Regions from separate parts of the Homo sapiens genome. Here regions 1, 2, 3, 4 and 5 are each reported to be linked to region 6. The links are microRNA targets in miRTarBase. Many come from high-throughput screens and were not tested one by one. Region 6 holds a microRNA gene; each other region holds the end of a gene's coding sequence. Distances are from middle to middle.
Evidence for each region. Region 6 holds the annotated microRNA hsa-miR-6805-3p (UUGCUCUGCUCCCCCGCCCCCAG, at 3,590-3,612, opposite strand). A microRNA usually pairs through its seed, bases 2 to 8, with sites in the 3' UTR of a target mRNA and lowers its output. Matches are read on the target gene's strand: a 7mer-m8 pairs with bases 2 to 8, a 7mer-A1 pairs with bases 2 to 7 and ends in A, and an 8mer does both.

Region 1 (5,082 bases), not on the chromosome of region 6:
TAACTACCATGCTGTCTTTCCTTGTTTCCTTCTATTTTTTCTTGCTTGTCCTCTATCATGCAGTGCTGATACCAGATTTACAGAAAATATGGGTGAATCATTCCTTTGACACAGGTGTGGTGCAAAGACTTCTGCTGGAACTTTCTGTGGCTGTGACCTGGTGAGCTGGCTAATTGAAGTCGGCCTTGCCTCCGACCGTGGTGAAGCTGTGATATACGGAGACAGGCTGGTACAAGGGGGAGTCATCCAACATATTACCAACGAGTATGAATTCCGGGATGAGTACTTGTTTTACAGATTTCTTCAAAAGAGTCCTGAACAGAGTCCTCCTGCTATTAATGCAAACACTCTCCAACAGGAAAGATATAAAGAAATTGAGCATTCATCCCCACCCTCACATTCCCCTAAGACCTAAATTATGCAGGGGAGAACCCTACATGGAATCATATTCTAGCCGCGTATTCATTAGTTTTTAGCTGGGTGACCTTGGGCAAGTTAACAGAGGCAACCTCTCTGAGCCTCAGTTGTCTCTTCTGTAAAATGTGAAAAGATGTGCTCCCACCACATGCGCAGGGTCTGTGATTTTACATGTATGTAAAACACATAGGAAGCTGACTTAGGAAAAAGAGAAAACCAAATTAAAGTTCTGATAATGAATATAATATAGTCATCCTTTAGTATCCAAGGGGATTGGTTCCAGGACTCCTGAAGATCCCAAAATCTGAGGATACTCAAGTCCCTTATATAAAATGGTGTAGGCCGGGCATGGTGGCTCACGCCTGTAATCCCAGTACTTTGGGAGGCCGAGTCAGGTGGATCACCTGAGGTCAGGAGTTCAAGACCAGCCTGGCCAACATGGCGAAACCCCGTCTCTACTATAAAATACAAAAAATTAGTTGGGTGTGGTGGCGGGTGCCTGTAATCCCAGCTACTCAGGAGGCTGAGGCAGGAGAATCGCTTGAATCTGGGAGGCAGAGGTTGCTGTGAGCCGAGATCGTGCCACTGCACTCCAGCCTGAGCAACAGAGCAAGACTCTATCTCAAAAATAAAATAAAATAAAATAAAATAATTAATAAAATGGTGTAGTATTTGCATATAACCTATGCACATTCTCCCATATAGTTTAATCATCTTTAGATACTTATAATGCCTAATACAATGTAAATGCTATGTAAATAGTTGTTGTTATACTGTATTGTTTAGGGAATAACAATAAGAAAAACAGTCTGTACATGTTCACTACAGATGCAACCATTGTTAAGCCTGACTACATCTTTTTATCTGCGGTTGATTGAATCTATGGATGTGGAACCTGTGCATATGGAGGGTCAACTGTACTATAAATAATACGAATATGCCAACATTATATAATCATTGCTTTCTGCAACTGTTTACTATAATTTCAAAATTAATATCCTATTAACTGTTCCTATAAATTATCAAATTTGGCAAGTGTATTACTAGCAGGAGATGGACCTTAAATTATGACAACTTTATATTTTTTGATAGCATCTCTTGAAAAAGAATTTTAATGATTCTAATAAGAGGTTCTTTTTCTTTTTTCCATTTCCTTGACAAATAGTACTCATTTAAAAACTAGAGGGCTAGGCTTAGTGGCTCACGCCTGTAATCTCAGCACTTTGGGAGGCTGAGGCGGGCAGATCGCTTGAGGTCAGGAGTTCAAGACCAGCCCGGGCAACGTGGTGAAACCCGGTCTGTACTAAAAAAAAAAAAAAAGAAAAAGAAAAAGAAAAAAGAATACCCAGGTGTGGTAGTGCATGCCTGTAGTCCCAGCTACTTTGGAGACTGAGGTGGGAGTACCCCTTGAGCCTGGGAGGCGCAGGTTGCAGTGAACCAAGATCACATCACTGCACTTCAACCTGGGTGACAGAGCAAGACCCTGTCTCAAAAACAAAAAACAAGCAAAAAAAACCTAGAGGCACTATTTTTTTTTAAAGTTTGTCTTTTCTTTTCTACCCAAATTACTAATCTATGCCATTAAGGAAAGGAATAAGAACCTCCATATGTATTATTATCTCCACAGTCCTGCAGAAGTACAATCTGATCTTTAACTTTCATGCTACAAATAATAATTTGAGTAGATTAATTTGAATTTTATCAACAAAATTATTGCCATATGATGTATCATTTCTGTGTTTGAACAAAGCATCGTAATGCAGGATAACTTCTACTTTATTCCCTGTAGTTAAAAAAAAAAAAACTATATAGTTCAAGCCAATATTTAAAAATTCTAAACCTAGGCTGGGCATGGTGACTCATACCTGTAATCCCAGCACTTTGGGAGGCCGAGGCAGGTGAATTGCTTCAGCCCAGGAGTTCGAGACCAGCCTGGCCAATGTGGTGAAACCCCATCTCTACTAAAAAAAAAAAAAAAAAAAAAAATTAGCCAGGTGTGGTGGTGTGCACCTGTAATCCCAGCTACCCAGGAGGCTGAGGCAGGAAAATTGCTTGAAACCAGGAGGCAGAGGTTGCAGTGAGCTGAGATCGTGCCACTGCACTCCAGCCTGAGTGTCAGAGTGAGACTCTGTCTCAGAAAAAAAAAAAAAAATTCTAAAGATTACATTTAGAATTTAGTCTTTTTAAAGTGTCCATGTATAAAAATATATAATTTTTAAAATTACTAAATGTTGCCTTTTCTCTTAGTCTAATATTTTAGCTACTAAAACAAAATATAAACTGGATAGCTTATAAACAACATAAACTTATTTCTCACAGTTTTGGAGGCTGTGAAGTCCAAGATTAAGGCACTAACAGATCTAGTGTCTGGTAAGGCAAATTTCTGGCTCATAGATGGTACCTTCTTGCTGTGTCCCCACATGGTAGATGGGAAGAACTGGTCTCATTGGCCCCTTATAAGGACATTAATTCCACTCAATAGGCTCCACCCTCATGATCTAATAACCTCTCAAAGGCCCTACCTCCTAATACTAACACATTGAGGATGTGACTTCAACTTTACATTTCTACAGGCAGAGAAGTGGGGCTGTGTAAATTCTTCCCATCAGTACTTGAATGTTCATTTAACAAATAACTTATCGAGCATCTAGCATGTTCCAGACACAATCTGAACACTGAGCACACAACAGTTGGAACAAATATGATTCCTATCCTCATGGAGCTTCTATTCTCCTGTGAAAAACAGATGTTAAACATGATTGAGGATTAGGTTTCAACATAAGAATTCTAGGAGGACACAGACATTTAGACCATAGCATCTTCAGGTAAACTTTATCTTCAGTAAATTAAAGAGATCTATTTAGATGACCTTTGAGCATCTTAATTATTAGATGTCAGTGCTAGTTTAACTTATTTTAAACGTTTCAGATATTTATTTAATTATACTTTAAGTGTCTCATGTAAAAAAGTTATTTATAAAATAATTTATAGGGTTAGAGTCATTGCCCTTTTAATGCAACAAATAAACAGTTTTTTAAAAACCTGCATGGGGGCCAGGCGCGGTGGTTCATACCTGCAATCCCAGCACTTTGGGAGGTCGAGGCTGGCGGATCACGAGGTCAGGAGATCGAGACCACCCTGATTAATGCGGTGAAATCCCGTCTCTACTAAAAATACAAAAAATTAGCCAGACGTGGTGGTGGGCACCTATAGTCCCAGCTACTCGGGAGGCTGAGGCAGGAGAATGGCATGAACCCGGAAGGCGGAGCTTGCAGTGAACCAAGATCGCGCCACTGCACTCCAGCCTGGGCGACAGAGTGAGACTCCATCGCAAAAAAAAAAAAAAAAAAACCTGCATGGAAGCCTAGTATATTTATTAATAACAAATAAATTATACTTTAGTGTACTATTAACCTATACCAATTTTAAGTTGTGATTAGGGAATGGGGATGTTTTTAAGCTGAATTGTCTTGCTGCGGAACTTTCCTTTTTTAATAAGACCATATTATGACTCTGAATGCTCAAGGGTAAGTCTAAGGCCTCATTGCTGTTACCAGGAGATTTTTCTAGTTACAGTAATAAAGATGTTAATTCACATGCATGCAGACAACTGAAACTCAAGTGGAGAATTTGTTTGTGAACAAGTCATACTACTTCTGTTATTTGCATGAATGGAATCTGCAATATCTTTTTCCATGGGAGACCCTAAAAGAAAACCCTGGATCAGAATGATCTGCAGTTTCAGATAATAAAGGCTTTTAAGAGACATTTTTAGAATTAAAAATATGCTAATTTTATTAAATGAAAATATTTGTAACTGTTAACTTTCTCACTGACAAAGCAAGTTTCTCAATAAAATACCTATTTTAACTTGCATTACTGACATCTTTTCTTTGAGTAATCTGAATAATGCAGAAGCCATCATAGAGGTCTTTTCTATACATTCTCAATGTTTTCTTAAATGGGTTTCCTGAGTTCTGTTCTTCATGACTCTGGGCTCTGCAAACAGGGTTTCCCAATTACGCATTCTATAAACACTTTTATGAATGAGTCAATATGACATTGAGTCCTTTTCATACATTTCATCATTTCCAATATGTAGAGTGACAGCTAGAAAAATGATAAAATTTTGATTAAAACCTATCTCTTTTTCTTCAGCATAGTCAATTGTTTTCTTAACTCTCAATGAGTAACTCCATGCCTAGCTTGTGCTTAGCTTTCAATATTTTTAGACTAAGACAAAGTGTATTTGGCATTTTGAGAACAACAATTAATGGTCAGTAAATTTCTAAAGCAAGAAAAATGTGAAACTAGTGTTTTATATGTTTGTTACGCAGCAGAATGCGGCTCTTAGTGTTTGCCCCTTCATATCTCATCATGTAAAATATTAAATTACTTTAGGCCACTGCACATAGGTAGTCCTGTCATGAGTGATGGCTGGAGAAAAGTTCAGGATCATAAATGTTATCATCATTCTTCAAGAAAAGATGAGATTATAAATTTCTGCAATTGGTATGATAAAAGGTTGAAATAATTAATGAAAAAGAAAACATTAGCTCTGTAGACCTGTTTTGGGCACACTTTACAAGAAGAAACTAACTCTCCAAAATTCTAGGCTATGTAGTTATTTCTAAAGCAAAACTTTTGATTCATGATTAACATATA
Region 2 (5,088 bases), 20 Mb from region 6:
CCTCCAGGATGCTGCCGGACTGGAAGAGCTCCTTGATCCTCATGGCTTACATCATCATCTTCCTCACTGGCCTCCCTGCCAACCTCCTGGCCCTGCGGGCCTTTGTGGGGCGGATCCGCCAGCCCCAGCCTGCACCTGTGCACATCCTCCTGCTGAGCCTGACGCTGGCCGACCTCCTCCTGCTGCTGCTGCTGCCCTTCAAGATCATCGAGGCTGCGTCGAACTTCCGCTGGTACCTGCCCAAGGTCGTCTGCGCCCTCACGAGTTTTGGCTTCTACAGCAGCATCTACTGCAGCACGTGGCTCCTGGCGGGCATCAGCATCGAGCGCTACCTGGGAGTGGCTTTCCCCGTGCAGTACAAGCTCTCCCGCCGGCCTCTGTATGGAGTGATTGCAGCTCTGGTGGCCTGGGTTATGTCCTTTGGTCACTGCACCATCGTGATCATCGTTCAATACTTGAACACGACTGAGCAGGTCAGAAGTGGCAATGAAATTACCTGCTACGAGAACTTCACCGATAACCAGTTGGACGTGGTGCTGCCCGTGCGGCTGGAGCTGTGCCTGGTGCTCTTCTTCATCCCCATGGCAGTCACCATCTTCTGCTACTGGCGTTTTGTGTGGATCATGCTCTCCCAGCCCCTTGTGGGGGCCCAGAGGCGGCGCCGAGCCGTGGGGCTGGCTGTGGTGACGCTGCTCAATTTCCTGGTGTGCTTCGGACCTTACAACGTGTCCCACCTGGTGGGGTATCACCAGAGAAAAAGCCCCTGGTGGCGGTCAATAGCCGTGGTGTTCAGTTCACTCAACGCCAGTCTGGACCCCCTGCTCTTCTATTTCTCTTCTTCAGTGGTGCGCAGGGCATTTGGGAGAGGGCTGCAGGTGCTGCGGAATCAGGGCTCCTCCCTGTTGGGACGCAGAGGCAAAGACACAGCAGAGGGGACAAATGAGGACAGGGGTGTGGGTCAAGGAGAAGGGATGCCAAGTTCGGACTTCACTACAGAGTAGCAGTTTCCCTGGACCTTCAGAGGTCGCCTGGGTTACACAGGAGCTGGGAAGCCTGGGAGAGGCGGAGCAGGAAGGCTCCCATCCAGATTCAGAAATCCTTAGACCCAGCCCAGGACTGCGACTTTGAAAAAAATGCCTTTCACCAGCTTGGTATCCCTTCCTGACTGAATTGTCCTACTCAAAGGAGCATAAGTCAGAGATGCACGAAGAAGTAGTTAGGTATAGAAGCACCTGCCGGGTGTGGTGGCTCATGCCTATAATCCCAGAACTTTGGGAGGCTGAGGCAGGTGGATCACTTGAGGTCGGGAGATTGAGAACATCCTGGTCAACATGGGAAAACCCCGTCTCTACTAAAAATACAAAAAAATTAGCTGGGCATGGTGGCACATGCCTATAATCCCAGCTACTCTGGAGGCTGAGGCAGGAGAATCCTTGAACCCGGGAGTTGGAGGTTGCAGTGAGCTGAGATCACGCCACTGCACTCCAGCCTAGCGACAGAGCAAGACTCCATTTAAAAAAAAAAAAAAAAAAAAAAAGAAGCACCTTCAGGCTGGAGAAGCAGCGTAGCTAACACAAGTCCAGTCCTTGTGATGTGGCTGGTAGTTGGGGATGGCCAGGCTGAAGCAGAGAGTCCTAGAGAAATCTCGATACAAGCTTCAAAGCAACACCTAGACACTGCTCTAGCGGTTGATCCTGGAGATAAACCAACAAGAGAGAGATGGAAGAGAAATACTAAATGAGGTCAAAGAAGACTCAGAAAGGTTCTGAGCCTGGAGATGAGCAGGGAGGCCTCAGGGCTTAGACCTTTAATGATAGGGGTTTCCCTGCATTGGTTTGACCTGTTGCCTTTTTGATGTGCTCTGTTTGTTTTCATGTGTTGTCTTGTCTCCCCTGCTAAACTGGGAGCTGCCAGGGGTCTGGGTCTTATCTCCTTCCTCCATGGTACCCCACACAGGCCAGGATGTGGTTTGGTACCCAGCAATCAGAGATTGGCACTCCCTCATACAGGGGAAAGCAACCTGGTCTAGCAAATTGAAAATAAAGATGATAAAACTCTGAAGTGAATGTCCACAATTTTTGTAACACTGCTGCAAGCACAGGGAGGGCAAAAATAGGAGAGAGAACCAGATTCAGCAGCAAAGGGGAAAAGTGATGCATCTGAAACCACAGAAACATCTTAAGATAAAGAGGTGGTGTGGGCAAAGGAAGTGAGAGCACTGACGGAATCGTCTTTCGAGGGATGAATAGAGAGTCCGGACTTAGAAAGGATGCAGGGTGATTCCGATTCACAGTCATCTGTCTGCCACAGGGCCTTAAAACATGTCACCCTCCTGCTCAGAAACCTGCAGAGCTTTCCTATCATCAAAATGTTTCCTTGGCCAGTTGCAGGGGCTCATGACTGTAATCCCAGCACTTTGGGAGGCTGAGGTGGGAGGATCACTTGAGCCCAGGAGTTGGAGACCCACCTGGGCAACACAGTGAGACCCTGTCTCTCAATTTTAAAAATTTAATTTAAAAAGATGCGTCCGGCTGGGCACAGTGGCTCATGCCTGTAATCCCAGCAGTTTGGGAGGCCAAGGCGGGAGGATCGCCTGAGGTCAGAAGTTCTAGACCAGCCTGGCTAACATGGTAAAACCCCATCTCTACTAAAAAGACAAAAAAAATTAGCCGGGCATGGTGGTGCGTGCCTGTAATCCCAGCTACTGAGGAGGCTGAGGCAGGAGAATCACTTGAACCTGGGAGGCAGAGGTTGCAGTGAGCCGAGATTGCGCCACTGCACTCCAGCCTGGGCAACAGAGCGAGACTCTGTCTCCAAAAAAAAAAAAAAAAGTGCTTCCCCCAAGGAACTCATATTGTACCATTCTTTTCCTTGCTTTGTCCTCTCTCTCCCCTTCCAGTTCTACCTGCCTAGCTCATTTTTCCACAATAAGGACTCCTAGACCATTCTCTCTAGTTAAATGACCTCCAGCCCCTAACCTAGTAGTTTGCAACCCAGGCTGTACATCAGAATTACATGTGGAGGTGTGAAAATAATACAGAGAGCCACCTCCAACCTACTGACAGAATCTCTGCAGGTGGGGCCCCAGCAAGAGAGCTTTTCAAAAAAGCACCCCAGGTGGCCAGCTGGGGTCGCGAATCGCTGTCTTATCTCAGAAGCCAAATCTGTCCAAGAACTTGTTCTTCAAAAACCTTGCCTGCTTATTCATCCCCCCTCACCTCAATCCCACATTCTTCTACCTGTTTTTTTGTTGGTTTGTTTGTTTTTAGAGTTGGGGTCTCACTCTGTTGCCCAAGCTGGAGTGCAGTGGCACAATCATGGCTCACTGCAACCTCGAACTCCTGGGCTCAAGTCACCCTCCCGCCTCAGCCTCCCAAGTAGATGGGACTACAGGTGTACACCACCACACTCAGCTAATTATTTTATTTTATTTTGTGTAGAGATGGGGTGTTGCCCAGACTGGTCTTGAACTCCTGGCCTCAAGTGATTCTCCTGCCTTGGCCTCCCAAAGTGTTGGGATTACAGATGTGAGCCACCACACCTGGCCCTCCCCCATCTTCTGGTGCTTGCCTCTTCTTCACTTACAAAAATCCACTCAATATTCACTTTCTCCAGAAAACCTTTCCTTATTAGTCCCACTGAACTGAAAGCTCATTTTCTATTTTCCTCCTTCAAAAGAAGACTGGACAGGTGCCATAAGAACCCTGAATTCAGTGTCCATTCCACTTACTAAATGGATGGCCTGAAGCAAGCCACCTCCTCCAGCCTCTATTTCTAAATCATAGTGATTAGGATACTACATACCTCCCAAGATTATTCTGTGGATTAAAATAAGACTCTATGAATAAAATTGCTGAGAAATCATAGAATATTAAGTAGTTCTAAGATATAAATCCATGTACACAGATGTACCCTCACTTATTAGAAATATAATAAGTAAACATTAAAAATAGTGGAAATAATGCTGGGCATGGTGGCTCATGCCTGTAATCCCAGCACTTTGGGAGGCCGAGATGGGCAGATCACTTGAGATCAGGAGTTCAAGATCAGCCTAGCCAACATGGTGAAATCCCATCTCTACTAAAAATACAAAAAATTAGCCAGGCACGGTGGCAGGCACCTGTAATCCCAGCTACTCGGGAGGCTGAGGCATGGGAATCGCTTGAACCTGGAAGGCAGAGGTTGCAGTGAGCTGAGAACGTGCCACTGCACTCCAGCCTAGGCAACAGAGAGAGAATGTCTCAAAAAAAAAAAAAAATAGAAATAACATAGTAGGTAGTCAACTACGGATAGCATGGCAGTAATATGTTTTAAAAAATCTGGGATTCTCAGCTGACTGTACATGCACTATGAGTCTGTGATGTATTACAGCTGCCACAAAAGCTAATTTGATTGGATTACATGAAAAGAAATCATGTTGGCCAGGCACAGTGGTTCACGCCTGTAATCCCAGCACTTTGGGAGGCGAAGATGGGCAGGTCATGAGGTCAGGAGTTCGAGACCAGCCTGGCCAGCACGGTGAAACCCCATCTCTACTAAAAATACAAAAAATTAGCTGGGCATGGTGGCGTATGCCTGTAATCCCAGCTGTTTGGGAGGCTGAGGCAGGAGAATTGCTTGAACCCGGGAGGCGGAGGTTGCAGTGAGCCGAGATCACGCCATTGCACTCCAGCCTGGGCGACAAGAGCAAAACTCTGTCTCAAAAATAAAAAGAAAAGAAATAATGTCTAGACAAGTTGATGATACTGAGGCAGAGCAGGTGTGCTAAGTGGGGCTTGGCCCATGAGGGTTCTTGGTTTTGCCCAGGAAAGAATTCAAGGGCTAGCCGGTGGTGAAAGAAAACAGCTTTGTTGAAGCAGCCCTGTTACAGCTCCAGCCCTGTTGCAGCTCCGTGACTGCTCCTGCAGAGCAGGGCTACCCCACAGGCAGAGAGTAGCAGCTCAGGGCAGTTTTGCAGTCATATTTTTGCCTACTTTTAATTGCACACAAATTAAGGGGCAGTTAACACAGAAATTTCTAAGGAAAGGGTAGTAACTTTTGGGTTGTCAGGTCATTGCCATGGAAAGGGGTGGTAATGCCCAGGTGTTG
Region 3 (5,088 bases), not on the chromosome of region 6:
AGATTTTTGAATCCAATGAAATTAGAATCGTCTACCAATAAGGAGACTACTGGGTGCTAGACTTAACTGTCGAAACACCGTTCCACATGACAGAAATCAACACTTGTCTGTTTACATTAACCGAGCAGAGCTTAGTCACCCATCACTGGATTCGACCTCGAGCAGACAGCTCTACCTGACTCAGGGTCGGAAGAGTGATACAAGGTGTGCAACATATGAAGCTCCTAATGCCCATCACTAACAAGTGACACGGAGGCAGGGGAAACAGAGAGTGCCGCTACCGATTCAGGTCACGCAAAGGAGGGAGGCTCTTTCAAGGTCTTGCTCCAACTTCACGTTTTCACATTATTTCAGAGTAAGAAAAGAAGTGGTGCAGACAACTCAAGAAATAAAATGGGCAAAAATTATACACATCTCTATTTACTAGGAGAAGTAAAAAAATAAAACAACCCCTGTGTTGAAACCAGGCAGTATTGGAATCAGGAGGTGAAGATCTGTTTCATAATCTAGTGATTTCAAGAGAGTGTGTCAGATCAACGGAGATGAATAATTGTGCACAAATACACGAGCAACAGCATTGGCTTGACTCTAAAGGAGGACCAGAATGTGTCTCTACTTCCACTGCTAACGCCCCTCTGCAGAAAATGTTCAGTGTGCGTGGCATCGTGCTAGTCCCACCTGGATATACTAATTTATGGACGGCCTTTTCTAGCCAATGGGTAGAGAACAAACTCCCAGGTTTGGAAGCCAAGCCTCTCTGAGGAGGCACAGAAAAGAACTATCCGATGTCCACGTTCAGTGTGTACACACAACACACAGAGACAAAAACAGAGGCCAGGCTCCGTCAGAGGACACACTCTAGCTGAGCAAAGGCTGCATTCGGCAACTAGGGTGGTGTAAACACCTCGGATCTCACTGCAGCCGGAAGGAAGTCACGGCATAGTCCCTTTTCAGGAGTCTGAGGGATACCACTTGTGTTGCAAACCACAGATCCCAAGTATTAGACGTATTCCCTTCTTGGTGGAGGCCTACTCTAGAAGAATCAAAAACCGATGACCCTCTCAGCGAATCCGATGTTAAAGCTCCTAACTAGGTGACCCTTTAGCACTACAGACGTAAAAATGACTCTAATGCACTCCCTAGAAAAGGCAGTGAAGCAAAGGGGGCTGCTGAGAGTTTACATGGTTTTCATATAAAGAGGCTTTTAACTTTGGAAAAAGCGGGCCTGGAAAGAACACTACCCCCATTCCAGTTGACGGCTTTTTAAGTACTTTGTGGCCTTCCTGCCGCGGTGCAAAATGAGGTCTATTTTAGGAACTGGCTTCTTTACTGCGGGGTTAGATGCCAACATTTCACCAGGGTTGGACGATCTCACACATGAGTTTCTGGCACTTTTAGGAGGGATTTCCTCAAGTGATACACTAGGGAATGAGCCTTTCAGCAAAAAGCGGTTCCCCGGAGTCAGTTGCCAGCTCCAGGAGATTAATTGGCCATTTTTTCATATGTTTTATGTGCAAGATATTTAATATGGGATGAAAAATGGAACACGAGGAAAAGCAGGTATTAGTTTGGTCTGAAAGAGGTGGTAATCCACAGATTTGCTTTTGTTTCGACAGTTTCTAAGCAGTGGAACAATTACCTAACAGTGCACCAAGTAATTTGTTAAAGTTGAAAACAGTAAGGGCGTTCATGTGCGCCAAGGTATTCTGGGCTGAAAACAGCAATTTTGAATTTTCATGGCAGACCCAACTCCTAAGCTGGCTCCACTCTGTCCTATCAGATTTTGGTGGTGGTGGCAGAGAATGTCATAGGCCTGTGGCTGGCACCGACCAAGCTGTCAGGGTGGTACGAAAAGGAGAGGAAACAGGAGTGCTGGACATGGACCCAGCTCTGGGTAGCTGATGGTGATAACACATCGATTTTTTGTTTCCCTTTTGAAAATAAGCAGAAAATGATGTGGGTGGAAAGTCCTCCTTAGGAGTTCACAGGGACTGCTCGTATTTAGCAGGGCCCTCTAAATGGGGACTGGTGAAAACAAAGATGTTTTGAACGGGGATCCAGAATTTCGCCCTTGACTCTCGGCAGGTATGACCCTGGGTGCCTGTGAGCTAGGAGAGGAAATTCTGTATGCAGGGCAAACATGTTACAAGGGGAGGAGATGGCACTGCACTTCAGGTCTCCAAATGCAGTGTGCTAGGAATGGCCTCGCTGACAGTTGGAATCACGGATACATTAATTACAGCGAAGGCAAAAGTAAGCTACAGTGACAGGGAGCTGGGGGCGGAGGGAGAAGGCACTTTGCCATGGGAGCACATCTGTTTTATAATAAGCAGGTCTATAATTCTCTTGTGAAAGATCATGTTCTGCTATCTTCTCTGAGGCTGGAAAATATAAATACTGTATTTTACCAAGAGGAGGAGGAAAGGAGATGATCAAATTTGTTTGCCTGTTGCCAAGTGTTTGAGATTTTCCACCCTTTTTCTTTTGTGTGCAACATTCTCTTTAACTAGAGTGGGGGAAAAGTCAACCTGCTTTTCTAAGGGTAAAAGGCACCGTCAGGCGTCTCATGAATAGGGCCCTGGCCTTTTAACAAGTTTTCAAGCCTTGGTTGCGGCTACTGTATAGTCAGAAAATAAATGCATGTATGGTGTTGAGCTATTAAGGTGAAATGTGTGGCCTGGGGCCAAAGGAACTGGTGTGGGTTGAGAGGTAAAATGCTTACATCTAACTGCACAAAAGTCAGTCTGAAATGTCACATCTCTAGATGGATGGAAGTATCATGAGTTGGGGTCTTGGGGAAGCGGCGTGTGGGGGAAAGGAGCAATGGGGTTGAATGTACCAAGTATGTTGTGAGCCACTGATCCTAATAGCAGCAAAACTACTAAACCATGAAGACATAGAAGGCATCTGCTCAGCGCGAAAGCTACAGAATCTTCTCATAAAGTCTACTGAGAACTGTTCCATTATAAACATATTTTTCTTGCTCTAGGGAGAGTTAAGGGGAAGGAATGGGAGCTGTCAGGGTCCCAGGGCTGTCCTACCTGCCGTTTTGGTCACAGTGACTGCCACGTGCTCTTCCAAGGGCACTGCAGCTGGAGAACACTACCTGCCAAATAGCAAAGCAGATCTCTTTCTTACTCCTATTATTTATTTTAGCACTCTTTGTTTTACTTCAAGGTGGCAATTATATATGTGTGTGTATATATATATATTTATTTAAATAATATTAGATCTAATTCATTAATTATACTTGTAAGTTTGTATTTTCTTAATAGTCCAAAGTTGGTATTTTGAAGTTCCACATTACTCTGATTTTTTAAACAAAAAAATGAGAAAGCAAGAATGGTCACATTGACAAAGGTCGAAATGAAAGTGCAGGAAGAACAACGAGAAATAAAGCACTTAAAATGAATAGGTAGGAACTGCCTCCACAGGATTCTGAGAAAAGAAACTAAAACGACCCTCTTTGGGAATATACTTACTAGATAGCCTTATCTACCAGTCTACACGACGATGTCTTTAACAACCACCCCAGGACATTTCCTCCGGCCAGCATCATGAAAAAAATCATAAATATCAACCATGGGCACCCGTTGAAAACTGTTAAGAAAGCCATGTGTACAGCCTGGAAAACACGGTGGAGCGTCACATCATTAGGTGGGTGATGGGATTAGTACCGAAAAACAGACCGACAACACGCAGTTATTGGTCGCAGAGGTTTCTTCTCTTCTCAGGAAAAAAACTTCTGAGATTAACTTCAAAACCAGAACCAGCCCTCCTCATAAATGAGGGGTGTATGCTTTCTGTCAGAGGGGGCTTGGCTCCTGTTTCCAGCCATCGGCTCTGCTTACGTGATTCCCCGCCTCCACAGGAGGAACTGAGGCGGGAGCGCCACGGACACCAGGTCCTGGAAGGACCCAGCAGTCTCTTGTGTTTTGAAGGTTTTCTTATGAAACAGATGATGATGGGTGCCTGCCTCAGTTACCTCAGCCTCTGTGAAGGCTAAAAATAAATAACACAAAAATAACCTAAAGCACTGTTTTGTGCAGGAAATGCTTCCTTTTGTGTCTTGGGTAATAAAATGTACCGAGAGACAGAGAGAAAAAAAAAGTCTGAACTATAAAGCATTGTGTATACCACGTTTTGTCTGGGAGCAAGCAGCTGAAATTCTTGGCTAAGTGTAATCCAGCTATTGGTAGTTTCTCGAGCCACAGAGGTTCTGTGGATCGTCTGGACAATGATGTACACAGAGCATACGTACAGGACGTATAGGTATTTGCGTATATATAAATAAATATATATATCTATATCTAGTTGAAGAGGATACATACTCTTCTTCCAAAGGGGTCTAACTGGCTAGTTAGGAGGCCGCTCTGGGGCTGATGGATTGTTGATTGGTGAATCCCTGGCCTTCGGGTCGGCTGGAGTCAGGTGTTCTGGTAGGACAGCTCGAACATGGTGCAAGCCTCCTCTAGACTCTCGTCCATGTTCAGTCTCTGCCAGAAAGACTTCTGCTTCTTCTGCAGCTCTCGGCGAACACACCTCGGGCAGGGGACAGACTTTTCTTTGCATTCAGAATGGAAAACGGCTCCACAGCTTTCACACCTGCAAAAGTCAACCATGGATATGATGAGCAAGACTGAAGCCAGCAAGACACAAATGGGAAGCCCTGTGGCCTCAGGTGCAGCTGGTGGCACAATCTACTGTTCTGGACAACCCTGCCAATGGGAAGGGAGATGACTCACTGAAATGAACTGTTTGTTTTTCCAAAATGCTCAAGGTTGAATTTCACTTGAAAAACATTTTTGCTTTTCTGATCTGAACTAGGGCTTATGAGTGGGGGGGAGTCCGCAGTCACCCAGCAATTCTGGTTATAGTGACAATGGACAGAACACCAGAAGCTCTCCATTGAGAAGGGAATTGGCAGTGACTCTAGAGTGAAATGACAGAAAATGAGAGGGGAGTGCCTCGTGAAAACGCTCGGCACACCAGTGACAGCCACAGCGTTACATCCATGGCGAGGCAGCTTTCTACATCAGTTAACACGAGCTAAGTGGTTCTCTGTTAACTAGCTGCCTTTATTTGACA
Region 4 (5,000 bases), not on the chromosome of region 6:
GGTATGTATTTGTGACCCTTCAAATCTTGGCAGTTATATTAAGGGAAAGCATAGTTCATCCTCAAAGCAAAATACAAACAGACTTGTTTTTGTGTGTTCTTATATGTGTGTATAATTGTTAAAGATACTCTATAACTAGATAAAAATTGAATACACAGTACTGAGCCTGCTCCTTCACTCAGTGTTTTCTTCTTTGTCTTTAGATTAAAATGTCCCTACTGTCCAATGGAACAAAGTCCAGGAGATGCCAAACAGATATTTTTCTGAAGAGATAACTTTAGTTTGCAATTTGTAAGTGAAACTGAATCGTGGGTGCATTTCAGAAGAGAACGTTCCATATAATGCAGCTAACCAAGGACTCCTGTGTTTCTATAAGCTAATGCTCCAGAAACTTTGCCAACCTGTTAGTGTACACACACTGAGGGGAGTGCTCCCGGTGAATATTATCATAGGGCTTTATTATATTCTTGGTCTTCATTTCTGATCAAGTAAATACACCAGCAGTTGTCATTCAATGCAGGTTTTTGTACTTAATTATATGGTGATTTTTTTACTTTTTAAGAGCAGAAACGGAAATTGACCTCCCCGCCATGTGTTTAATATTCCTCCTGCTTTTACTTTTGTCATTTTCTTGATAATCGTAAGCCTTGAGAGTGTTTGTGAAAAAGTTTTATTTCCTGTTATGTATACATAATTAAATGAAAATTCTTCAGAAAAAGTTTGATAAATTGAATTGTGGTTATGAAACTAATTTGCATTTTTATTTGCTTAAGAAAGAAAGCTGTGATAGATTCCAGATATGCTTTTTGATGTTTTCCTCTGCTCCAGCTCCAAGAAGTCAGCACACCTGCATTTTAGCTCTGCATGCAGCCCCAGCAGGCTGCGTGTTTAAGAATTTCATTGTTTAACTGGCTGGTGTGAGAAGTCTTCCGTTAGCATAGAGTGGAAGGAGTACTATTGTTTGGTTGGGTTTTTGTTTGTTTGTTTTTTGTTTTTGCTTTTATTGCCAAGAGGTGCTTGTTTTAAAAGTATGTTTAATAAAATGAAATTCTAAAGTTAGAAGTGTTCTTAAGTTGATATTTACTCTCTTGGTCTTGGTAGCCCTATTATATCATTGCAGACACAGTGTTGTGCATGTGTGTATTGTATATGTGCACCAGCATCAAACATTGTGTATCTGGAAGGAAAGCAGCATGTTCCAGTTCTAAAATGCAGTTACCAGACCCATCACTTTAAATCCTTAAAGTTAGAAGCTAGCAAATTTTCTGTAGTGCAGAACGTTTATTGCTGTTTTTGTGTTTGAATAGTATAATGTTTGATGCCTCTCTTCTGCAAAGCGTATCATCTCATTGACTGTGAATCTGTATATTATTCTGATGGATACAGATAATGATCTTTTCTCTTGTGAGGTATCTTCATTTATGCACTGTCCAAAAATAGCCATGTGTAAGAGTCTTTCTGTATGACGAACTACATGGAAAAGACTTCTGTGGACATAATTCTGACCGAAACCCATGAAGTTACTTCAGTATAAGAAGAACGTTACACGGAAATCACCAAATATTTTGCAACTTTATTTCTTCTGACATGGAGTGAACATCAATAGGAATACTTTCAAAGAAAATGAAAACACAGAAGCAAAGAGAAATGTGGCACTTCACATTTTAAACTACAGATGGACTTGGTTTGAGGGAGGGGGAATCACAGATTTGGTGCTAAGTTAATTAGAAACTGGCAGCGTTTTACAGTAGTACACCAGCCTGGATGTTTTTTCTAAAATGTTTACCTGGGAGAGCTGGGGTTTGTTTGTGAGGAGAAAGAGTACTGTGGAAAACCTCTGCTTGAGTACCATGTGGCCAGGCCTATGTGGATGGCTACTCCGTGCTGTGCGGCTTCACCAGCGGTTGGGATTGGCCCAGCTTGGAGTGCTTGTGTGGTCCAACCTCAGTCTGGCCCCATAGCGACTTTTGCCCCATGATTCTGCTTCACTGTTGGAATCCTCTTTGAAGTTCCCCCTCTCTTTGCTAAAGCAGTGAAGGAAGAGAACAGAGACAAACTCTTTGGACTGTGAAAGAGAAGGTAGAGAATTCCAGGCAACAGTCTGACCAAGGGTGTAAACCAGTTTATTATATATATATTTTTCCTTTGAATTAAAACCTAGAGTGTTGTATTTTTCTTTCTTTCTTTTTTTTTTTTTTTTTTTTTACCCTTTTTCTCCTTAGGCCAAGTTTAGCTTATTCTTATCTTTCCACCCAAACACCTACACAACGTTTAGGCTTCCTGTAAGGTTTGAATGAGACAGATGTACTCTGAAGGCTGGTGGTAAATGTGTTTGATGACCAGACTCTTCATACAGTCGGCTTGGGCCACTTTAAAGGACAAAAGCCAGAGCTCAGCTTTATCCCTCTCCCAGTGCTGGGAGCCAAAAAACTGTTGACGGTTTTTTGTGCAGCTCAAGAAAACTTTGAAAAGAACATGCTTTAACTGAAGCATTGGACTCTGCAGCTTTCTGTGTAAGGCCCGTGTACTCCCACTGGGCAGGGTGAGGACCAAAAATCTGAAACTCTTATGAATCTGACATATTATATGGAAATTATATCTTGTGACCGTCTTCAAGTGCATGGACTTAAAATTCATGAGAGACTAAATGTGAGGGAGAGGTGGATTTAAAGAGGCCAGACCTTAACCAAAGATGCTGAGATACAGCATTCTGTCCCCCCTGCCCTAGAAACTCCATAAATGCTGTCACAACCCTATCATCGCTGATGCTTTCTGCATGTCAGCAGTCCAGGAGGATGCTTTTTGTCTCTCTTTGCCTCCACTTTACAAAAGATAATATGATAGAGGCAACGTTTATAACAGTCACATTTAATTATAATGTACATCAAAGGCAGAATTTCAGAATGGTTTCTTAAATTTCCTTGGGAACCGTTTCCACATATCAGTTATAGACAAAGGCCATGGGACTATGCTAAACCAATAAAACCTTATTAGCAAATCTTTAGATTCTGACTTAGCCAGAGCATCTGAGTGTTCAAGTACAGTTTTACAGTGGCTAAGGTTGTCTCTTGATCTTTTTTCTCCGTTGTGTGATCACAGATGCTATTTCTGTTTTATTGGTGATTATACGAGACTTCTAATACATAAATGAACGGGTATTGGTGCCTCTTTATTTTAAAAAATTTGAAGAAAAGAGCCACCTCATATTCATAGGGTGTGTATTTTTTGAGTGTGAGCATTTAATTGAAAATAAGAAAGCTATGAAGTAAATGTTAACTTCTCTGTAGCAGCTAATGCATAGAGACACTAAAACCCACACCACATTTTGTGGGAAATGAGGATCCTGATCCTCTTTTGTCCTCTCCAGGTAGTCTCGCAGGTTATGCAGCTTAAGTTCAGTCTTCTTTATGCTGCGATTGATTTCCACCTCAGTGGCTTAGCCTTTGGGACAGTGGATACTGCAACAGCCAAGAACTCTTGGTTATCCGCACAAGCTGCTGGTAGACTACATTAGCCCTCTGGTTTTCCAGCTCAACCTCTGATAAAGTGGACTGAGAGCCACGCTGCTCAGTCTGTTTCGTCAGCCGACTCAGGTTATTTTCAGGGAAGGCATGGAGGCATAGTTTGGTTAGTTTCATCACTAGGATGTATAAGGTGACGACACAAACCAAATACCTTTCTTTCATCACTTAACTATACGTACTTTATCTCTGGTAACACTAGAATGCTGTGGTCTTGAGGGAATGTTAGCAAGGAACACATAGAAGATTTGGTGTTTCATAAGCCTGTCTAGGTGTGGCAGGTTTTGTGTGGTACACTGATGTTTACCATAAGCAGGTACAAGCTTCATGAACCGTTCTTAATGAACTATAATTGAATAGATACCAAAAATAGAATGACAAATGTATTTTAATAGCAGATGAGGCAGTTTTAGGATGAATTTTCCACTGTTGATTTTACTTCAAGACATAGCAAGAGAAACAAAATTTTGTTTTCAAGACATTTCCACTGCAGTTTCAAGCTGTAGTGGGCATATGCTTCATTTACTTCCAAAGAGGCAAAAGCAGCTGGAATTGGCTTACAGCACATGCTTTGTTTCATGTTATGGGTGAGGACCTACATACACTCTTACTTTAGCAGTCACTTAACCTTCTCCAGCAAGGCAGTTGTGGGGTTCACTAGGATTTAGTGCCTGATCTTTTTTTTGGGAAGGGGCGGGAATGAATGTGTTGGGGCTGGGAGGGAAGCAGAAGAAAATGGGAGTGTGAGTGAGTGTGCATGTGTCTGAAGTTCACCATTGCCCCCACCTGCACCTAGCAAGGAACAGGTGTTTGATGTATTTTGCTCATGACTGCAGTATGCATGTATTTTTTTCCTTCTCTGTGTTTTCTAAACTTACACTAAAGGATTCATCAAATCATCTTGTTCAGATGGCTCAGGATTGTATTTATTTTGCTTACCCCGTGCTCTTGGGTTCTATAGTATTTCTATAATTATGTAACGAGAATAGTGTTGCACTGTAATCTATCATATAGAGCTATATGTATGGAAAATTTTGATCAATTTTTTAAGAAATGTATCCTGTTTGCAAAGGCACAGTAAAGTTGCATCTTATAGACTATAGGCAATAAAGCTAACAATAAACCTTATTTAACACAAACCACATCCATATCCTCTGTTCATTTGATTTTGGAAAAAGTAGCATATCCAGTAGTTTCAGGGAATTCATTTTAACTTTAAGAATTCTGATATATTTAATTTATAAATTTCGGACTGATATAATAGAGTTTTGGAAAACTATAAGAAATGCTTTGTTAATGTGTGTATTCCTATGTAAAACACATGGCTTTTCCTGTGTATATTTTTAAAAATTAAAGAAATGCACATTTAAAAAGTGTTTTGTGGAACCAGTCTGTATAAATGTGCCAGGTGACAAAGGTATGAGGGAGGGAGTAGGGAGGTGCTGACTGTGAGAAGAGAAAATTGCTGTCTGTATTTGC
Region 5 (5,080 bases), not on the chromosome of region 6:
TCCTCCTTTGTACTTCTTTTAGGTTTTAGGTTTCTGTGCTAATTTTATAACTCCTTTTTCCCAACTATTTCCCCCCCTCCAAAGAAATACAGCCCCTCGGACCCTGCATTTGCATATGCGCAGCTGACCCACGATGAGCTGATTCAGCTGGTCCTCAAACAGAAGGAAACGATAAGCAAGAAGGAGTTCCAGGTCCGCGAGCTGGAAGACTACATTGACAACCTGCTTGTCAGGGTCATGGAAGAAACCCCCAATATCCTCCGCATCCCGACTCAGGTTGGCAAAAAAGCAGGAAAGATGTAAATCAGCAGAAAAAAAACACCGAGACGTTTCTGTGACTTCACTTTCACCTGCTCCAGGGGTCAAGGACTTGCCTTGCCTGATAACCAGCCAGCAGGCTCCGAATCACCATCTCCCTCACATGTTATCCGGCAAGAGTGAATTCTACCAATGGAAGCCAGGTTAATGATTACAATTAATCTTTTACTGTACATTCCCAAGGCTTTAGTTTTAAATGCCACTGTGCCTTTAACAAGGTTGTAAATATTTTATGCCCACCAGAGATGTGGTCATAAGATCTGATCCTGAGCCAGAGATTCAGATGGCACAGGAAGTATTCATGTATTTTAACACTGGGGTTTTCTTTCTTTCATACTGAGATTTTTTTTCAGTATGTATCCTCCAGCTCTTAAAGCTTACCTGAGAAAGCTTTAAATGAGAAAAGGACCATGCGATTGGTGCTGTGTTACATACACATACTTTCTTGGCTTCTGAGTAGCTCAGGTGTGGCTTTTGGCTGCAGATGTTAAATTTTGATACCATGTAAACCTACCCAGCTTCTCAGACTTGGGTCTTGTTTTTTGATGGGAACAGAGGTGTTTAGAGAAAGCCTCTGAGTATGCCTTTCAGATTTTGAACAAGCGGCCTTTTCTAAACATCGACTTCTACTACTCTCTAGCCTTAAAATACCTTCTGCTTAGATCCAGGGCCCTTCTACTGGAGATAGGAAAAGTAGAATTCAGGAATTAAAAGAATTACTCTTTATTCAATTTGAGGAACTTGGTGAAAGCCCCTCCTCTTATGACAGCCAGGTTCCTGCTGGCTAGACCAGCCTATTCAGCGCTTTGCTAGGGGATTGGGTGGTCCACGCACTCGCTAATACAGTTCTCCAGGTGTGGAATGATGTCAATACGATTGCTTGGCCTTTTCCCCCTGTGCCTTTGCTCGGTGCTCTGGTTTCCTCAGCAACACTCCTTGTAAGGGGCAGAGACAGGGTCCACCAACTCCCCAAGATGAAGAAGCCCCTTCAGGCCAGTCGTGGTGGCTCATGCCTGTAATCCCAGCACTTTGCAAGGCCGAGGAGGGTGGATCACTTGAGGTCAGGAGTTCGAGACCAGCCTGACCAACATGGCGAAACCCCATCTCTACTAAAAATACAAAAATTAGCTTGGCATGGTGGTGCGTGCCTGTAATCCCAGCTACTCGGGAGGCTGGGGCAGGAGAATTGCTTGAACTTGGGAGATGGAGGCTGCAGCGAGCCAAGATCGTGCCACTGCACTCCAGCCTGGGCAAGAGTTTTTTTAAGACTCTTAAAAAAAGAGCCTGGGCAATTTTTTTAAGACTCTGTCTTAAAAAAAACTAAAAAGAAAAAAAGAAGCCCCTTCACTCTACAGGGGACAGGAGACCATGGATTGGACCCCAAAGGGATTGAACTGCATCTGCATGTCTGTCCTTTGAACACTTTCTCTCCCTGCCCAAAAGGAAACCCAAATTATTTGTGGGATACTGGGGAAATTGTAGTGAAGGGCTTAATGTAGTTAATAAAAGTTAAAAGTCAGTAGAAAACAGGTGCCTCAGCCTTCAAATGGTTGCTTTTTTTCCATTTTCCCTCATGAATAGACTCACCAGCATTTTACCCCCTTGTTATAAAACTGTGCAGAGCAAGAAGATGATACTTATTTTTGAATTTGTATTTTTAAAACTAGATTTATAGACTTTTTTTTTTTTTAACTAGGGCACTTGCTTCCTTCTTAGCTAAAAGCACCAGCTGAGATTTTTCAGGTAATTTTGTTGTTACTCACTTAAGACTGGAATTAGAATGTTTCTGGTATTTCTCATTTTTTTCCCTGGCTATGATAGAATCTCATCTAATCTTGACATCTCTCCTAGGGGAAGAATATCACAGGCTAATAGCGTGGTTGGGGGTGAAGATGATAGCAGTTATTAAATCAGGAATCTCTTTTATGTGTGTCCTTGTTACATTGAGGTTAAGAGACAAAATCATTGGCAGTGCAATCTCTTTCCAGGATTTCGTTTGCTGTGGCATTGGTTATATCAGAGCACTTTAATCTGAAGGATGATACTGTAACTTGATTTATCTAATTAGCTTTTAATTATCTACAGCTATTTTATTTTATTTAATTCTCTCCTACAGTACTGGGACCACTGTAAACTTCTCAGATGACTTGTATTTTTGTAGTGCTATGAAATTTATTTACATACTTATAAAGAAAACTGTATGTTCACTTGAACTCTGAAAATGTACATGTATGGCTGGACGCGGTGGCTCACGCCTGTAATCCCAGCACTTTGGGAGGCTGAGGCGGGTGAATCACTTGATTGAGGTCAGGAGTTCGAGACCAGCCTGGCCAACATGGCAAAACCCCGTCTCTACTAAAAAATACAGAAATTAGCTGGGTGTGGTGGCAGACAGCTGTAATCTCAGCTGCTCGGGAGGCTGAGGCACAAGAATCGCTTGAGCCAGGGAGGTGGAGGTTGCAGTGAGCTGAGATCACATCATTGCACTCCAGCCTGGGCAACGGGCGAGACTCTGTCTCAAAAAAAAGAAAGAAAGAAAAGGTACATGTATATATTTGTCCTGCATTATGTTTTTTACTTGATATAAATGTATTTTTACTGTGATAGTCCAAGTGCCCTGGGGGGCAGGTGTGCTCTATGTGGTTCTTCTTCCATTGGAGAGCTGGCGTAGAGATCTGCAGTGTTCACAAGGATGTTGGTTTGGAGATGTCTGCTGCTAGGACCTGGGGTGTGTGACTCAGTCCATATGAGAGGGACATCTGGGTGGAGGAGTAAATTCCTGTGCTCTGAAATGCCACTTGGTAGCTCTGGACAATGAAGGACAATTGACTCAAGGGTGCCTGGCTTCTGCTGCTGCTGGGAAAAAATTCAGTTTATAGCATTCCTGCACCTCCCAAAGTAGATAACCTGGAGGTCATTCAGTTAACAACTGTCCCTGAGGACTCAGTTTTGGGGGAGGGGTTATCTGGGAGAAGCTTTAGCCTGTTCTGAGCCATTAGGAGACATTAGTGAATTGGAGCACTGGAGAATCCTACAAATGGCCTATGTCTCAGAAGAGCTGGGACCTCCTTCCAGCTGCTGCAGATGCTGACAGGCCCTGGGAGGCTGCTGTGCTCTGGAGAAGCTGGAGCAGCTCATTTCTTGGCCTAGCCTGGCTGCCTCAGAAAGAGCAGTCAGGACTTGAGGGAAGCATCAAATTCTATACCCATAAACTGCAGTTGGAAGTCAGCTTTTTGAAATGTCCAGCCTTTGCCCAATTGTTTCAGATCATCTCATGCCTCAGGCTTTGGCAGGTATCCTGCCCTCCATCTTATTCCAGTGTGTTCACCTCATCAAGGCAGCAGAGTGGATGAAGGAGTAAGTCTGCCCTTTGCCATACTGAACAGCTGTGGACCCCGATTGGTGAGGGCTCTGCATATGCCTGTATGAAGGAGATACAGGTGTGTGTGCACATGCCGGTATGAAGAAGACACAGGCATGTGCTTCTCAGTTTTGCTAACAGTGGGAGCTCAACGGGGCAGAGGGAGGAAGGTCCATGATGCTCAGCCACATACTGTAGAGAGAGGCAATTTAATGTTAAATGACGCACCATCCTCCCTCCCACCCTTCTCCCAGTCAACTTTTTTTCTTTTTCTAGAACTACTAATTATCTCTCAAGGCTGAAAAATTAATTGCCTTAGGTGGAGAACTTAATTCCTAGTATCCACCAAACTTAACTCCGTATCTCCATATGGTGTCTCCATATCTACTGTGTGAGCTACTTAACTGACGCCCTCTTCCTCCAACTGAAGGATCGCCCAACGTTTTTGGATTATAGAATTATTATTTCCTGCTTTCTTTCTTTGGGACTTTTGAATTTCTTTGGTTTCGTTTTTAAGAAGTAACCCAACATTTCCTACAACACTAAATAAAATGGTACTTACCTTTCAAAGATTTGTGTCTGTAGTTTGGTATGGGTGCAATAAAAATTTATTTTGTCTTCCTGGAAAACCTCTCTTGGTGGGGGTGGGGGGATGACCAGTGTTTCTCATCCCATGAGGGTCTCTCACTGGGATTTCTGTTGCTGCCATCTTGCCTGGTTCCCAGGAGTCCCAAGGCCCTTTTTCTCAAAGAGGACGGACATGTCTGGTCCCTTCGGATGCACCCTTCATCTTGGCCTGAGGGACCATGGCACTGGCCAGAGAAACTGAGTTGGAACGTGCTGCCCCCTTTTCCTTTGCAGCCGGTACCCTTGGCTGAGCATTTGGACAGGGTCTTTCCTCAGTTCCCACCCCCACCACACACACAGGTTCCCACAGAGTGATGTCTTCACTTTGGGGGCATGAGTTGAATTCAGGCTGGGCTCAACTGCCCCATCTGGGAACCAGGTCCTTGTTCAGTTGACTTAGTTTGTCCATGTGTGAATAGAGGGTATTAGGGATGCACAGGAGTCTCCTGGAGTTCATCTCTCCAAACCCCAGGCCTTTCCCAAGGAGGTGAGAGGTGTGCCTGCCCCGCGAGCGGTGCACGTGGTCCACACTCCAAGGTCCCAGACCTCTTGGAATGGAAGTGATACCTTTGCTCTTAGAGATGAGTCACATTGTAGAGAGACAGAGGCAGGCGGTGCCTGTGAGACTCCTGGGCTGGGATGGGGGAGCTTCCCTGAAGGCCTCCCTGGTTTTGGTGGAGAGGCCTGGTGATTCCAAGTGGACATCGACTGCCATGTGTAGTGACATGAAGACACTTAATAAATTTTATTTTATTTATTAAATCTCTTAATAAA
Region 6 (5,088 bases):
GTACAAATTAGTCATAGGCATGTGAAGACATCTGTGATCATGAGTCCATCTGATCAAAATATTTATAAAAAGTCATTAATTTATTCCTACAATCAGGATTTGTGGGCACAGTCAAGCAGGTTTTGCACATTTAATCTTCTCATCAACCCTGAGTAGTAGGGTCTATCGACACGCATGTTACAGATGAGGGTACGAAGACACAGAGAGGTTGAGGAACTTGCCCAAGGTTGCACAGCCACCGAGCAGCAGAGCCCTGACCCAGTAGATGCCAGCATGTCCTGTGAACAGAGGATGCCTCAGTCCCGAGTCTCTGCTGCTGTGGGGAGTCTGGAGTCCCCAGCGCTCTGCACAACTTTGGGCTTGGCAGCCTTCCAGGGTGCGCCCTACGCTCACTCACCATGCAGCTACTGGACTAAGAGCTGGAGAGACAGCAGTGAACACTGAGACACCTGCCTTATGCAGGGCTGTGAAAGGCACTCAAAATGGCCTTTTACATATGGGAAACTGAGGCACGGTGCTACTAAACGAGCTGCCCAAGTCCCCACAGCTGGGCATAACTGGCAGAGCTGGGACTGGAACCCAGGCAGTTTGATTCCTGGCTTCCGTGAACCATTAGCCCTGAGCTGGGAATGCTGCCGGGCATCACTCTTGGGGATAGGATGACCTGGGGGAGGTTCTTTCAGCACTCTGGATGTGTCCCCACTGCCTGGGCCTGGTTTCTGATGAGGGCAGCTACTAACTTTATCAGGGACCTTCTGTATGTGACAAGACGCTTTTCTTTTGTTCTCCCAATTTTGTCTTTGGCTTTCAGCATTTTTACTATGGTGAGCCTGCCTGTTTTCTTAATATCATGTTTTTGGTTTAACTGGTTTTCCAATTTCCAGGCCAACAGACATGATTTGTGTGAATAAAGCTGGAATAGATGGCCCCATCCAACATCTCTCTCTCCAAGATGAGGTCTAGAGGAGGGAAATGGTGTCTCCACGTTTGCTCAGCACACTGAGGACTCCAAACTCTGTGGGGCTGAGACCATCTCCCTCCCTCCAGCCCTCTCCTGGTTCCTCCACCCCAACCCACCGATAGCATTCAGATACCAGACGTGGCCTCCCCAGCCCAGCCACACAGACAGGCTGGCCACCCGCAGGAACAGAGGCCCACTAAGCTGGGCTGTGTTACGGATGAGACCAGGGGAGGCCACACAGCAGGGAGGATTCAGATAGGGATGGAGAAAGCCAGCAGGACTCCACAGGGGGTGGGGCCTAGAGGCACAAGCCTCCAGGGCAGGCAAGGAGGTGGTTAAGGACAAGGCCTTCTGAGCAGCAGCAGCCACATCAGAAAGCCTCGAGCGCCTGTAATGCCAGCACTTTGGGAGGCTGAGGCAGGTGGGTAATTTGAAGTCAGGAGTTCCAAACCAGCCTGGGCAAAATGGTGAAACCCCATCTCTGCTAAAAATACAATACTGAGCTGGGTGTGGTGACACCCACCTGTAATCCCAGCTACTCGGGAGGCTGAGGCAGGAGAATCGCTTGAACCCAGGAGGTGGAGGCTGCAGTGAGCCAAGATCGCGCCATTGCACTCGCCAGCCTGGGCAACAGAGCGAGACTCCATCTCCAGAAAGTCTCCAGTGAGCAAACTCTCAGGACCGGTGGGCTTTATACATTCAATATGCACCATTCATCAAGCATCTCATTATATGCTGGTGTGCTAGACAAACCCCTTGCCCACCAGCACAAGACAAACATGAGACAGATAAACCTGCCAGCTTGTGGGCTGCAAATCAGTGCTGTGGAGGACAACTGAAGCAGGTGCCAGGGGAGAGGCCTCACGAGAAGGGGCCATCTACTAACGTGAGCAGTGAGCTCTCCTTATGAAGGCGGAGTCCCAGCGCAGTGAGGCCAGCCAGAGATGGGCCTGAGTGGGACTGGGACAGTGGGGGCTCCTGAGCAGGTACGAAGTCACCAGCGGAGTGAGGCCAGCTGGAGGTGGGCCTGAGTGGGATTGGGACAGTGCGGGGGGTCCTGAGCAGGTACCAAGTCACCCAACTCAGTTTTAAGGCAACACCTCTCAATCTGAGCTAATAGACCCAACTAAGGGAAGGACAAAGGAAATGGTAATTCACAGCAGACAGGGGCTGGCAAGTGGTCAGATCTGCTCTCCTTCGAGCTGGGCAAGACTGGAGCAGACAGGACTGAGGTCGGAAGGGCAGTGGTCTGCCTCAAAACGCAGGGCTCCCAGCCCCGTACGACCCCAACCAATGGCAAGTCGAGGCCCTGACAGTCCCCTTACTCTCAGTCAGAGCCGGGGGTGGTCTCAGACAGGGAGCAGAGTCCTTCTTTGAATCGGGTACCCCAGGATGGCAGGAACCAGGGGTGCCATGGATGCTGGATCCTTGGTCCCTGGCAGTGGCTGACAGAGTTAGGTGCCCAGGAAACATGTGAGGATCAACAGCAGGACTCTTTCCCCATCCAGGCCTCACTGTGTGTCATGGTGTCTTCCAGGCTGGAGTGTAGTGGTGGGGCTCATGGGCTCACTGCAGCCTCATACTCTTGGCTCAAGTGCTCCGCTCACCTCAGCCTCTACTCAACCTCTGAGGAGCTGGGACCACAGGCGGTGCACCACCACACCCAGCTAATTTTATTTTAGAGACGGTGTCTCATTATGTTGCCTAGGATGGTCTCAAACTCCTGGCCTCACAAGCTGTAATAAACACTAGGGAGCAAACAGGCCAAAGGAAACAAGAGGGCTGGGCAATCAGGAAAGCTTGGGTGACAGGGTGGCCCAGGAGCGGCCACTGAGATGAGACCTAAGTGACAAGAGCCAGCTCAAAGAGACAGGGGAGGGATGGGGACACCTGGAGGACGGGAGTAGGGGGACAATGCTAAGGCTGCTCAATGCCTGCTGGCTGTACCCTGGGGCTGCCATCTCCCTTACAGTTATAAGCCACCACCCACCAAGTTGCCCATCTCAGAGATGAGGTTGCATCAAGTAAAGCCCATCCCCTCCAAATGTGGCTGCACCCACTCCCTGGATGCAAAAGTCATCTCATCTTCCTCCCGTGATGTCTGTCGTCCCCCAGGTCTTGGGAACACCCCAAGTCCCCAAACCGTGCTACAGCACCAGGGCCCAGGGCCCAGCCCTCAGCCTGCACCCTTCTGGGCTAGAAAAGGCCTTTCTTCTTCTGAATGGAAGCCACTGCCCCAGCTGGGATTCTTCAGGCCACCTCACAATGGGACAGTAGGTCTCAATCACAAGTCAGCAAACTTTTTCTGTGAAGACAGTGACCCTTGCCCTCACCAGGGACAAGGCAGCTACCCCACCCCTCCTGCATGGCCAGCCATTGACATCACCTCCAGATGGACAAGGTGACATGCAGAGTTTTGATGACATGGCCTGAATGACAACACACAGGGCCAGAGCTCCCCAGAGCGTTTCAAAAAGGGAGGCCCAGTCGAGGCAGGTGAGAAAGCCAGCTGACTTTATTGCTCTGGGGGCAGGGGGCTCAGGAGCTCTTGGTGGGGCGGGTCCGCTTCCTCTTCACCATCACAGGCTTCTGGCTGCGCAGGATGGCGCTGGCCCTGCGGATGGCTGCCTGGGGGCGGGGGAGCAGAGCAAGGCTCAGCCCATACACTCCACAAGCCGCCCCCTAGGCCAATGCTGGGTGTGGGGAGTAGGCTGAAAGCAAGAATCCATCCCTCTCCAGCCCATATTGCAACCAGTAGTGGGAGGCCCTTCCCCACAGCACTGGCCAGTCTCCCCAAGCCTGATCCCCAAACCCCAGCTCACCATGCGCAGGTCGGGGCGGTACTTGTTCTTGCGGATCATGTGTCTGATGCTGCTGAGCGTGGCGCGAGCATTCTTGTTGATGGTGGTCCGCACATAGGAGGTGGCAGGCTTCCGCTGGCCTGGTTGGGGGTCAGGGAGGTCCTGGGGTCAGTCCACCTAACCTGCACCTTTAGCACACCTCGCAGGTGTGGACAGTCTCACATTGAGAAGCTGAGCAGCGTGGGCCCGTGGCGGGTGCCTGGGCAGGCCAGCAGGTAGCTGTTTTCCCACCTGTCCATTTCACAGAGGCTCACTCGTCATCACGGAGTACTGAGGACACAGCTTCTGCCACACTCATAGCCCAATTCTGTCCACCATGAAAACACTCCTTTCTCATGCCAGAAAGCTGCCGCTTCAGTTAGGATCTGATCCAGGTCCAGCCAGAGCCCACGCTCCTGGCAATGGGTATGAACAGCTTCCCAGGAACCCCAGGCCCATCCCCACAGCAGTGGTTCAACATCAGCTTGGCTGAGAGGCCCAGCCTCACTCAGGCCAGTCCCTTAGTCTAGGAAGGGCCACCCATGTATTCGGCAATCCAAGAGGTGAAAGCTTTCAGGACTCCCCAGAACGGGGTCCCCAAGTGCCAAGCAATTGGCTGCTCCCTGGACTACGTGTCCCTGAGACAGGAGGATCACTAGCCAACAGACTGCGTTTGTTGCTGCCACTGAGTAAAAGGACCCTTGGCTCTGAGGCAGTTCCAATCAAGGACCTGAGAAAAACTCACTCTAAAAAGAAAATACAGCCCTGTCAAGAACACATGTGAAGCTGGACTCCTCCATTAGAGACCCCCGACTCACACGAACATTCAGGGAATCCCCAAAAAGGCCTGCACCTGACAGCACAATGTATGGAGTGGGGTCCCCAAGACCTCTTCTCTAACCTACACAGGCAAAATGGGAATCAAATGGCTGCAACCAACCCAGCCTGTCCCCTCCTAAGTGTGGTAGCGAGGGCCCCTCCCCTGTTGTGCCTCAATCTTCCCACCTGTGGGATGAAACCATCCATCCCCACCCTGACTTGCTTTGAGAATTTCATCTGAAAACATCAACCCCGTGCCTTAACTCTCAACAACCACCGAGGAAGTTCAGGTCCTTTTTCATTTCTCCACTTTACAGGTGAGGACACGGGCTCAGACGCGCGCGGCTCACAGAGCTGACAAGTCGGCCGAGAGGGAAGCCGGTACCCAGACCAACACCCTGGCGCCAGGGATGCCCGCCGCGATGGCAGTTACCGCTCTTCCTGCCTGACAGTAAAAAATCACAGCTC

Region 1: miRTarBase lists GPR155 as a target of hsa-miR-6805-3p. Seed matches in the 3' UTR shown: 8mer at 1,023-1,030 and 8mer at 1,889-1,896.
Region 2: miRTarBase lists FFAR2 as a target of hsa-miR-6805-3p. Seed matches in the 3' UTR shown: 8mer at 1,497-1,504.
Region 3: the mRNA of PLEKHM3 is a reported target of hsa-miR-6805-3p. Seed matches in the 3' UTR shown: 7mer-A1 at 2,981-2,987.
Region 4: the mRNA of RMND5A is a reported target of hsa-miR-6805-3p. Seed matches in the 3' UTR shown: 7mer-m8 at 3,019-3,025.
Region 5: miRTarBase lists RAB11FIP1 as a target of hsa-miR-6805-3p. Seed matches in the 3' UTR shown: 8mer at 1,937-1,944 and 7mer-m8 at 2,336-2,342.

The regions. Positions count from the first base shown.
Region 1 is chr2:174,431,449-174,436,530 of GRCh38, reverse strand. It overlaps GPR155 (G protein-coupled receptor 155), which reads left to right. Exons shown (of 16, transcript NM_152529.7): 16 at 115-4,960. The coding sequence ends at 415. Among named protein-coding and RNA genes, the nearest start is that of SCRN3, 38 kb to the right of the region's middle.
Region 2 is chr19:35,449,707-35,454,794 of GRCh38, forward strand. FFAR2 (free fatty acid receptor 2) reads left to right here. Exons shown (of 2, transcript NM_001370087.1): 2 at 8-2,061. The coding sequence starts at 9. The coding sequence ends at 1,001. Among named protein-coding and RNA genes, the nearest start is that of FFAR2, 4.0 kb to the left of the region's middle.
Region 3 is chr2:207,823,892-207,828,979 of GRCh38, forward strand. PLEKHM3 (pleckstrin homology domain containing M3) reads right to left here. Exons shown (of 8, transcript NM_001080475.3): 8 at 1-4,605. The coding sequence ends at 4,428. Among named protein-coding and RNA genes, the nearest start is that of FZD5, 57 kb to the left of the region's middle.
Region 4 is chr2:86,773,145-86,778,144 of GRCh38, forward strand. It overlaps RMND5A (required for meiotic nuclear division 5 homolog A), which reads left to right. Exons shown (of 9, transcript NM_022780.4): 9 at 204-4,897. The coding sequence ends at 267. Among named protein-coding and RNA genes, the nearest start is that of CD8A, 15 kb to the right of the region's middle.
Region 5 is chr8:37,858,118-37,863,197 of GRCh38, reverse strand. It overlaps RAB11FIP1 (RAB11 family interacting protein 1), which reads left to right. Exons shown (of 6, transcript NM_001002814.3): 6 at 85-4,580. The coding sequence ends at 303. Among named protein-coding and RNA genes, the nearest start is that of BRF2, 11 kb to the right of the region's middle.
Region 6 is chr19:55,386,744-55,391,831 of GRCh38, reverse strand. MIR6805 (microRNA 6805) reads right to left here and starts at 3,651; the gene lies at 3,590-3,651. It overlaps RPL28 (ribosomal protein L28), which reads right to left. Exons shown (of 5, transcript NM_000991.5): 4 at 3,784-3,902; 5 at 1-3,589. The coding sequence ends at 3,500.